Regions from separate parts of the Homo sapiens genome. Here region 1 is linked to region 2. Evidence: fine-mapped expression QTL. Tissue or cell type: whole blood. Region 2 holds a variant in brackets; the other region holds the start of a gene. All regions are shown on one strand. Distances are from middle to middle.

Region 1 (5,000 bases), 27 kb after region 2:
ACAATGACAACAGGCTTTGTCTTCCCAGGAAGCCAGGCACCATTTAAAGGTACAGAAGCACACGAGGAGTCCAGCTGAGGCACACAAAACCTACCACAGGGCAGCCAGCCGGGCGCTCTTCTCCACACCTCCACCCAGTGCCAGTGGAGGCATGAGCCCAGGCAGGAGGGAAGGCACAATGAATTTCTGAAGTAAAGTTTAAATAGATTTTATTGTTACAAGGGGGACCCCACCAAGCAGGGTCAGTGACCCCCAAGGAGGTCACCATGGAGACATCAAGAGGTCATGATTGCAGAAGAGGTGACTGGAATTGAATGACATGATCCAGGGGAGGCCGGCCACAAATGCAGTAACATGACCAGGATGGGCCGGTGGGGCTGGTCAGGTCACAGTGTGAGGGACAGAACGGACCCCTTCACTCTGGCCTCCTGTAGGTCTCCAGGTGTGACAGGATCCAGCCCGCTGGCAGGAGGAAGGTCACGAAGCAGGAGGTAAGCCCAACGGCCAATTCCTACACAGAGCACAAGAAAGAAGGCACCTCGGAGTCAGTATTCCCCTAGGCTCTCTAAGTCCTTGCAGTTCCCAGGCAGCAGAAAGCCCCGCTCAGGGAGCCAGGACTCAGAGGCAAGTGGGAGGCCCCGCATCCTCACGTTAAAGGAATCCACGCTCCACGGAGCAGACAGAGCAGGTCCAAAGCTACGCTAACCCTTGAGGTAAAGGGTCAGTTATAAGGAGGGGGAAGAGTGAGAGGAAGGAGAGACAGCTGGGGTTAGGGTTCAGGGAGAAATGCACCACCAGATGGTAAAGGAAGGGACAGGAAGCAGGATTTATTGAAACCTGTTTTAAAGCTGGTCTGGGCCGGGCATGGTGGCTCACACCTGTAATCCCAGCAATTTGGGAGGCCAAGGCGGGCGGATCACAAGGTCAGGAGTTAGAGACCAGCCTGACCAACATGGTGAAACCCCGTCTCTACTAAAAATACAAAAAATTAGCCGGGAGTGGTGGCGGGCGCCTGTGATCCCAGCTACTCGGGAGACTGAGGCAGGAGAATGGCTTGGCTTAAACCTGGGAGGCGGAGGTTGCAGTAAGCCGAGATCGCACCACTGCACTCCAGCCTGGGTGACAGAGCAAGACTCCGTCTCAAAAAAACAAACAACAAACAAAAAAAGCAAAGCCTGTATGTTAAGACCCAGGATCCTTGCATGGGCCAGTAACTCCAAAACGATACCTATCCTTCCTTGCCTGAAAACCCCCTCCCAGGCCGGGCGCAGTGGCTCACGCCTGTAATCCCAGCACTTTGGGAGGTTGAGGCAGGCGGATCACGAGGTCAAGAGATCGAGACCATCCTGGCCAACATGGTGAAACCCCGTCTCTACTAAAAATACAAAATTTAGTTGGGCATGGTGGCACGCGCCTGTAGTCCCAGCTATTCGGGAGGCTGAGGCAGGAGAATCGCTTGAACCCGGGAGTCGGAGGCTGCAGTGAGCCGAGATCGCGCCACTGCACTCCAGCCTGGCGACAGAGCGAGAACCCGTCTCAAAATAAATAAGTAAAATAAAATAAAATAAAATAAATAGCAGTAACAACCATTTTCGTCGCTGACAGCGTCAGGCATCCCCCAGTGAACCAACGAGAAAATGGGCTCAGAGCGGCTAAAGAAGTCGGCAGGAGGCGGCGCAGCGAGGAGGCGACAGGAGAGGGAGGGCCTGACAGGACCAGACCCGAGATCCTGGGGCTGTGGGGAAAGACCTAACGCCGACAGCCCCGACTGTCGCCCGGGCACTGTCCCCGTCGTTCGCGCCCTCCAGACATGCCCAAACCGGCACTGCTGCTCCCCGCTACGCTGCGGGGCGCGAGGCATTCTCAGGACCACCTGAGGTCAGCTAGGCAGAAGGGGTCAGCCCACGGCGCCTCCCGCGCTCTTCCAGGCCCGTTCCTCACCATGATCCCAAGCTTCCCCTCCGGCGGCAACGAATGGATCTTGGCGCGCGGCACTGGGAGCCGCCGGGCCGAGCCTGTCAAGCCCCGCAGCAGCAGCGGCGTCAGGACGGACATGATGGCACGGAGTACACCACAAAAAACGGTCAGCCGTAGCCCAAGGTCAGGAAGCCAAAATGGCTGCGCTGGCCGGAAGTTCTGGAGCTGGGGAAGCAGGGAAACTGCGGCGCGGAAGTCTCTCGGAAATGACGCAAGAACACACCTCCCACAGCCCTTGGCAGTTTTTGGCGCGTTCCTCGAAACAGCCAATTGACACCTTCCTACGCTATGGGCGGAGCACAAAAGGGCTCTTCTTCGAGTTATGTTCCGCCTCCAAGGCTTATACTTGTGAATGACATCTGGGGCCACCCAATCATGTACGCGAGAAGCCTAAACTGTTCTTGACTCCTCCCTTCATTCATACTGTTAAATCTCTCTCTATTCAGGCTGGGCGTGGTGGCTCACGCCCGTAATCTCAGAACTTTTGGGAGGCCGTCTGTACTAAAAAAAAAAAAGTACGGGCTGGGCGCGTTGGCTCACGCCTCTAATCCCAGCACTTTGGGAGGCCGGGGCGGGTAGATCATCTGAGGTCAGGAGTTTGACACCAGTCTTGCCAGCATGGTGAAACCCCATCTCTACGAAAAATACAAAAATTGGCCGGGCGCAGTGGCTCACGCATGTAATCCCAACACTTTGGGAGGCCGGGGCCGGTAGATCATCTGAGGTCAGGAGTTTGAGACCAGTCTTGCCAGCATGGTGAAACCCCATCTCTACGAAAAATACAAAAATTGGCCGGGCGCAGTGGCTCACGCTTGTAATCCCAACATTTTGGGAGGCCGAGGCGGGTGGATCACCTGAGGTCAACAGTTCGAGACCAGACTGGCCAACATGGTGAAACCCCGTCTCTACTAAAAATACAAAAATTAGCTGGGCATGGTGGTGGGCGCCTGTAATTCCAGCTACTCGGGAGGCTGAGTCAGGAGAATTGCTGAACCCAGGAGACGGAAGTTGCAGTGAGCCGAGATTGAGCCATTGCAGTCCAGACTGGGCCACAAGAGCGAAACTCCATCTCAAAAATAAAAAACAACAATAAAAAAAGTTCGAAAGCAGCCTGGCCAACATGGTGAGACTCCATCTCGACTAAGAATACAAAAAATAGCCAGGCATGGTGGTAGATGCCTGTAATCTCAGCTACTAGGGAGGCTGAGGCAGGAGAACTGCTTGAACCCGGTAGGCAGAGGTTGCAGTGAGCTGAGATCACGCCACTGCACTCCAGCCTGGGCGACACAGCAAGACTCCGTCTCAAAAAAAAAAAAAAAAAAAAATCTCTCTATTGAGAGTCCCCTCCTCTCCACCAGGCCTCCGTCGTTTTTGTTGAGAATTCCTGACACTGACCTAGTAACCAAACCTCCCTCAATTACTATTACACTCTTCAATTCCAGTTACCATGCTGGAGCAGCCAACTTCCCTTCCTTCCTACCCTATCACTCTCTCTCCCTCCCCCATCCCTTCCTTCTTGGTTTTTTAAACCTAAATCTGACCAAGTCATATACTTTCAGTGGCTCCCCATTGCTTCCTAGTCAAAATCCCAATTCCCGGATGTCACTGTCCAGCCTCAACTCTCAAAACTCTTCAATATTCCACACCTTCGACCCTGCTCTCTGATTTCCACCAACAAGCCTTTTGTTGCATTCAAAATGCACTCTGCATTTTGTTATTGATGTTGAGACAAGGTCTAGCTCTAAGCCCAGGCTGGAGTGGAGTGTGGTGTGATCTCGGCTCACTGCAGCCTTGCAACCTCCACCTCCCAGACTCAAGCCAACCTCCCACCTCAGCCTCCCAAGTAGCTGGGATTACAGGTGCCCACCACCATGCCTGGCTTTTTTTTTTTTTTTTTTTTTTTGAAATAGAGTCTTGCGCTGTTGCCCAGGCTGGAGTGCAGTGGCACTATCTTGGCTCTCTGCAACCTCCGCCTCCCGGGTTCAAGCAATTCTCCTGCCTCAGCCTCCTGAGTAGCTGGGATTACAGGCATCTGCCACCATGCCCGGCTATTTTTTGTATTTTTAGTAGAGACAAGGTTTCACCATGTTGGCCAGGCTGGTCTCGAACTCCTGACTTCAGGCGATCCACCCACCTTGGCCTCCCAAGGTGCTGGGATTACAGGCATGAGCCACAGCGCCCAGCCTAATTTTTGTAGTGTTTGTAGAGCTGGAGGGGGGTCTTGCTATGTTAGTCAGGCTAGTCTCAAACTCGTGAGCTGAAGCGATCCACCCAGATCAGCCTCCCAAAGTGCTGGGATTACAGGCATTTGTCAGGGCACCTGGCCTTGCCTCTGCACTTTGGGTTTTGTTTTTGAGACATGCATCACCCAGGCTGGAGTGCAGTGGTGCAATATCAGCTCACTGCAACCTCCACCTCCCTGGCTCAAGCGATTCTCCTGCCTCAGCCTCCCAAGCAGCTGGGATTACAGGTGTATGCCACCACACCCGGCTAATTTTTGCATTTTTAATAGCGACAGGGTTTCGCCATGTTGGCCAGGCTGGTCTTGAACTCCTGGCCTCATGTCATCTGCCCGCCTCAGCCTCCCAAAGTGCTGGGATTACAGGCATGAGCCACTGTGCCCGGCGTTGCTTCTGCATTTTATGTTCATTTTTTCAGCTCCTATGCAGGCTGCCTTTTTCACCATGCTAACTCCTGCTTCCTGGCTTCCAGTTAATGATACCACTTACTTTATTCAGTGAATATTTATTAGCCTCTACTGTGTGTTAGGAACTATTGTAGACACCAGTATGAACGAGGTGGATAGAGTTTCTTGTCACAAAGCTGACTTCTGGAGGGAAAAAACAGACAATAAACAGGCACTTAATTAGAAACTATTGTGTAAGTGTCACGGTGAAAATAAAACCATGATGTGCTAGGAAGATATGTGGGGTGGCACTACTCAGGATGCCTTCGCTGGTCACCCCAAGCCTGTGTCTCCTCTGTGCCCAGCAACACCTGTGTCAGCCCTGCCCCACATGGTG
Region 2 (5,251 bases):
CACTCCTGGTGCCCTCCACTGCCCCAGGAATGCCCAGGGCCATGGGCAATCACTCAGCCCAGCCCTCCTTCCTTCCACAACATCCTTCCATGGGAGGCGCACAGATGCTGGGCTGAATGCTGGCCGTGGAGGCTGGAAGGCAGGGCTTTACCACAGCAAAGCAGGGAGATGCCTAAGATGGGGCGGAGGGTCAAGGGCCGCTCAGAGGCCAGGGCTTGGGGCAGAAAGAGGTTCCTCCGGGCTCAGGCGAGGGCAGGCAGAGCCCCAGTGGCATTTGAGGAGCGGCCTGAGGAACGAGAGCCCACGAAGGAGACGGGAAGTCCCGCTGGATGGAGGGAGCCGTCAGCGCTGGGGGCAGCCAAACCGTCCAGAAAGACAGTGGCCTCAGAACACTGTGCAACAAGAGGCCACCAGGGCAGCCCCCCTGCTGGAAGGGGACGTGCTGATGTGGGGAGACACTGCCTCCCCAAGAGCGTGGACAGGGGGCCATTCAAACCAGTCAGCCAGAGTGGTTCAGGGCGAGGCCCTTTAGTGGTCCCAGAGGAAGCAGAGCCACTGAGGTTGGGAGCCCAACCTTCCAGCCGTGTGGGCAAGTTTTGCTCTCTGTGCCTCAGTTTCTTCTTCTATAAACAGGAAAAATAATAAGACAGCGGCTGTAAATCACCACGCAGGTGCTTACCCAACAAGAAGGCTGACAAAGGCCATGGGGGGTGAGTCATACCAGCTACTTAGGAGGCTTAGGCAGGGCAACATAGCAAGACCCTGTCTCAAAAAAACACAGGCTCACATCTGTAATCCCAGCACTTTGGGAGGCTGAGACGGGTGGATCACTTGAGGTCAGGAGTTCAAGACCAGCCTGGGCAACATGGTGAAACCCCATCTCTACTAAAAATACAAAAAATCAGCTGGGCATAGTGGTGCGCCCCTGTAAGCTCAGCTACTCGGGAGGCTGAGGCATAAGAATCACTTGAACCCAGGAGGCAGAGGTTGCAGTGAGCCAAGATTGCACCACTGCACTCCAGCCTGGATGATATAGTGAGACAGAGGGCTGATATGAAGGAGCCATATCAGGGGGAGTTTAACGGTAGAGGAGGGTGGAGGGAAGAAGGGGCTGCAGGGAGGAGGCAGAGGGGCCTTAGGGGCCATCTTCTGGCCACAGGTGGAGGAAGGCTTCATCTTTGACCTGATGGAGAAACATCTCAGGGGGGTCCCGCCACCCAAGTGGGCTCTGCCTCCCCAGGAAAGACCCCAGGTTTTCTGCTGACTTGGGGTGAGGGTTGAGCTGGAGCCTGGAGGTTTGTTTTGGTGGCTGAGGGCCCTGGAGAGGAGACTAAGGGTTGGTCAGCTCCTGTGAACTGGGAATACCCCACCTCCACCAGGTAGCCCCAGGGATCAGGGCTGCTGGTCTTTTCCAGCTGCCTTGGGGTGGGGTGGGAAGAGGGAAGAGGGAAGGAAGGGCATCTCCCCTGAATGGGACCCCAGGAAGCTTGAGTCTCTAGGACCTAGCTTAGCCCCAGGTAAGAGCCAGGACAGGGCCTGGAGGGCAGAGCTAAGGGGACTCTGGGAGTGTGTGTGGGAGGGGTCCTTTGGGCCTATGGCTAAGGAGAGCAGGGTGGGGGGGTTCCCCTCTGCACTCTCAGGGGAGAGAGCGAGAAGGCTGGTGTGTGGACAGGGAGGGACACGCAGGCAAGAGGGGCCAGGCTGCACTCTAGCTTGTTGGGGTAGCAGTGGGCTGACAGTGACCTGTCCCTCATCTCTGCTTTAGGGGAGCCCCTCCCTGGGGCCCCTGCAGAGCCATCACCTGGCCCAGGCCCTGTTCTGGAACTGCTGGGGGTGAGGAGGGGGCATCTGGCCTGAGCCCTCTGCCAGCATTGATTCCAGCTCCCTCCACCTCCCTTGCGCCCCCAGGTCAGCCCCAAAGGCCTGGCTGCAGGCCAGTCCACTTCCGCAGGAAACATTAAATTCCTGAAACACTGAGCTCCACTTCCCCGCACGGGCCCCCACAGCTGGCCGAGGTCGCCTGCAGGGCGGTGAGCCCCCAGAGACTTCGAGCAGCCGGTGCCAGGTGCTCGACCCGGGAGGCTCCTAGGAGAGCCAGCTCAGACAGATCCCTGGGCTCACCCCCACACACTGTGAACACCCTGTGTGCACCCACCTCCCATCACACTGATGTACACATACCCGAACATGCCCACACTGTCACACTGTTGTTAATAACAGGATACACTCATGACCTCCATTCTTGCCAAGCACTGCCTTAAGCACATTACAAAGTTAGTTTAACTCAATCCTTCCAACAGCCCAATGAGCTCTGAGGTGGGTGCTATTATCCCATTTTCCAGATGGAGCAACTGAGACCCAGAGAGGTTAAATGATATGTGAGGGGTCACACATCTGTGGCTGGCAGAGCCAGGATGTGAACTCACGTTGCCCAGCTCCACAGCCCAGCCACGGCACCCCATTCGGAACACTCACTTCCCAGCACTGGGAGCTCCAGCCTGGACGCCCGCTCTGGGCCCTGCCTTCTTGCTCCATCTCAGCCTCGCCCTGGGCTACAGCTGCCTTTCTCCCTGCAGAGGAGAGGAGCAGGTGGAAGGGATCCAGGCCTGAGCC[G/C]TTCTCAGCGTTCCCCTAACCTCTCTGCCCACCCATCCCTGGGACGCTCTGGGAAATTGCCTGGTGCCAGCTCTGAGTAAAGTTGCAGAATGAGGTTTAATTGTGCCCCCAGGGCACGAGATCAAACAGCAAAAGAAAGGGGTGTGAGCTACCTGGCATCCCTGGAACTGTGCCGAGACTGAGGTGATGAAGGAGAAGGTGGCCTTGGTTTGTCCATCTGTAAAATGGGGAATGATGGTCCTCTCTTGATGCCCGCCTGTGAGCACCAGGCAGCTGGTGCCTGAGGAGCTCCTGGCGTGGGCGATCAGAGCTGCCAAAGATGGGCCCTGTCCTCCCGGCCAGCACGCGGCGTTTTCCTCTGTGGGAGGGTCGCTGTCCCGGTATTCCAGATAAGAGGGTGGACGCCAGAGAGGGGAAGGGGCAGGATCTCACAGCCGATGAGGGGTGAGCCCGGGCTGGACCCAGGCCTGCCTGAGGCCGCGCCTCTCCTGCGCGGTGCCCTGGCGAGGTTGGGCTGCTGGAGCGTTTCCTCCATGCCTCCCGCTGCGCCCCGGTTGTTTATCTGCGCCCGGGTCCCCAGGGTCGCTCGCGAGGCCCTGCAGCCGCCCTCGGATAAACAAGCCCATGCGGGGCCGTAATTAAGCTGGATGCGCTAACGAGGCGGTTCATTAACCAGCTGGGGTTTGCGCGCCAGGAGACTCGGGCCCGGGCGTCGGGCTCACCTCCCCGCGCGGCTGGAAGACCCAGACTCCAGCTACAGATCTGATCACCCTGTAACAAGGTGGCCTCGGTTTCCTCATCCGCAAAATGGGTCCTAGGGTTTGCCGCCGCCCCGTGATGGGGCGCCGCCTGGGGAGGTGGGCCTTGGGATCGCACCGACGCTGAGGCCCGGGCGGAGGCAGCGACTGGTCGCGGGCCCTGCAGCGCGCCCGGGACAGGGCTAGGGAGGGGCGTCGGGGAGGAAGCTTCCCCGTCACCCCGGCTCGGGCGGCGGTTCCTGTCCCGGCGGCCCCCGCCTCCCGGAGCCGCCCTGCCTGGGCCCTGGCGGCGCGGCCTGGAAGGGACAGGGTGGGCCGGGTGCGCCCCCTGCCGGCCTCCTTGCGCGACTTCCCGCCAGGCCCAGGGCCGTCCCGCTCTGCGCCTCGGTTTCCCCAGATGTGAAACATTCCGGGCGGGGGTGGGGGCAGCGGCCGCGGCCGGAGGCCACGGGGTTGGGGCGCGGCTCCGCATGGGTCCTCGCATCGCCGAGGGGCTTCTCGGGACTGAGGGTGCTCACCCCGGGGCCGCAGCCTTGCCAGGCCAGCTCAGTCGCGCCCGCCCTTCCCGCAGTGGACGGCTGCATTCATCGGGCCGCCGGCCCCCTGCTTACCGACGAGTGCCGGACCCTGCAGAGCTGTAAGACTGGCAAGGCCAAGATCACCGGCGGCTATCGGCTCCCGGCCAAGTGTGAGTCCCCGACGCGCCCCCAGCTGTGGGGCGCAGACAGGGCGCCCGTGTGTCACTGGGACATCAGGGGTGCGGCCCCCACAGGAGTGCTGGGGAACTCCTCAGGGGGCCCTTCTTAACCTTAAGGGCCAAGACCCGGCCCCCACCCCGCACACCCCAGGAAGCACATGGGGGAGACCGTGCGTGGAGGCTGAGGATGGAGCTGGGGGGCAACGCCTTCGCGCCCACACTCGCGCTCGGGTCTCAGCCGGGCCCATACAGATGTGGGGAGGGGGCGCGGGGCTCTGTGCGCGTGCGGATTCGGGCTCGAGGGGGCCCACAGGGGTGGGGGCCTTCGCGGAGGAGGCTCAGCGCTTGGGGGGAAAGGTGTTTCCTGCCCCCTTCTGCCCAGGCCGGCAGGGGGAAGCGAGGGAGCTGAGGACCGCGTAGACCCCCGCCGGTCTGACCCCGTCGCCCCCCGTAGACGTCATCCACACAGTGGGGCCCATCGCCTACGGGGAGCCCAGCGCCAGTCAGGCTGCCGAGCTCCGCAGCTGCTACCTGAGCAGTCTGGACCTGCTGCTGGAGCACCGGCTCCGCTCGGTGGTGAGGGACGGCCCGCGGGGGAGGGCGGGAGGCGGGGCGCAGTGACAATGTTCCAACCCCCTCTCACCCCTCCCCGCCCAGGCGTTCCCCTGCATCTCCACCGGCGTGTTTGGTGAGTCTGGAAGAAAGGCAAGGACCAGGAGTGGGCGGTGGACCCAGACGCCGGGAGGGGCCGGGGCGGACAGGGGAGTGGGCGGGGCCAGAGCCTAGGACTCACTCCCGCCCCACCCGCCTCAGGCTACCCCTGTGAGGCGGCCGCCGAGATCGTGCTGGCCACGCTGCGAGAGTGGCTGGAGCAGCACAAGGACAAGGTGAGTCCTGGGCCCGGGCGAGGGTGGGGTCCGCATCCCGGCCAGAGTGACCAGCCCCCATCATCGCCCAGGGAGTCAGGGTGCAGAGCGCAGGGCCAGGCCCGCCCCTTCCTTCCCTGTTTCTCCTGCGCAAGGGCGCCTGGCGGTGGCGAGATGGGGGTGATGGCACACAGCCGTGAGCCTCCGTGAAGGGCGCAGGGCCAGGCAGGTGAAAGCCTGCACCAGGGCAGGCAGTCACAGGATCCTGGGGCCAGGCGTGGCAGCTCGGCCCAGGCTGAGCAGCCCCTGGCGCAGGT

Evidence for each region. PIP is the estimated chance that this variant, and not a neighbour inherited with it, causes the effect.
Region 1: COX8A starts here. The variant in region 2 is fine-mapped to the expression of COX8A in whole blood (TOPMed, PIP above 0.99).

Annotation. Positions count from the first base shown.
Region 1 is chr11:63,971,736-63,976,735 of GRCh38, reverse strand. It overlaps COX8A (cytochrome c oxidase subunit 8A), which reads right to left and starts at 2,116. Exons shown (of 2, transcript NM_004074.3): 1 at 1,942-2,116; 2 at 193-511. The coding sequence starts at 2,055. The coding sequence ends at 416. RefSeq lists an enhancer at 1,763-2,202.
Region 2 is chr11:63,999,035-64,004,285 of GRCh38, reverse strand. MACROD1 (mono-ADP ribosylhydrolase 1) reads left to right here. Exons shown (of 11, transcript NM_014067.4): 5 at 3,943-4,059; 6 at 4,523-4,644; 7 at 4,726-4,756; 8 at 4,882-4,955; 9 at 5,250-5,251. Among named protein-coding and RNA genes, the nearest start is that of OTUB1, 15 kb to the right of the region's middle. RefSeq lists enhancers at 3,216-3,723, 3,736-4,671, 5,009-5,098, 4,672-5,251 and silencers at 3,409-3,988, 4,639-4,878. The variant G/C (reference allele first, on the strand shown) is at 2,614.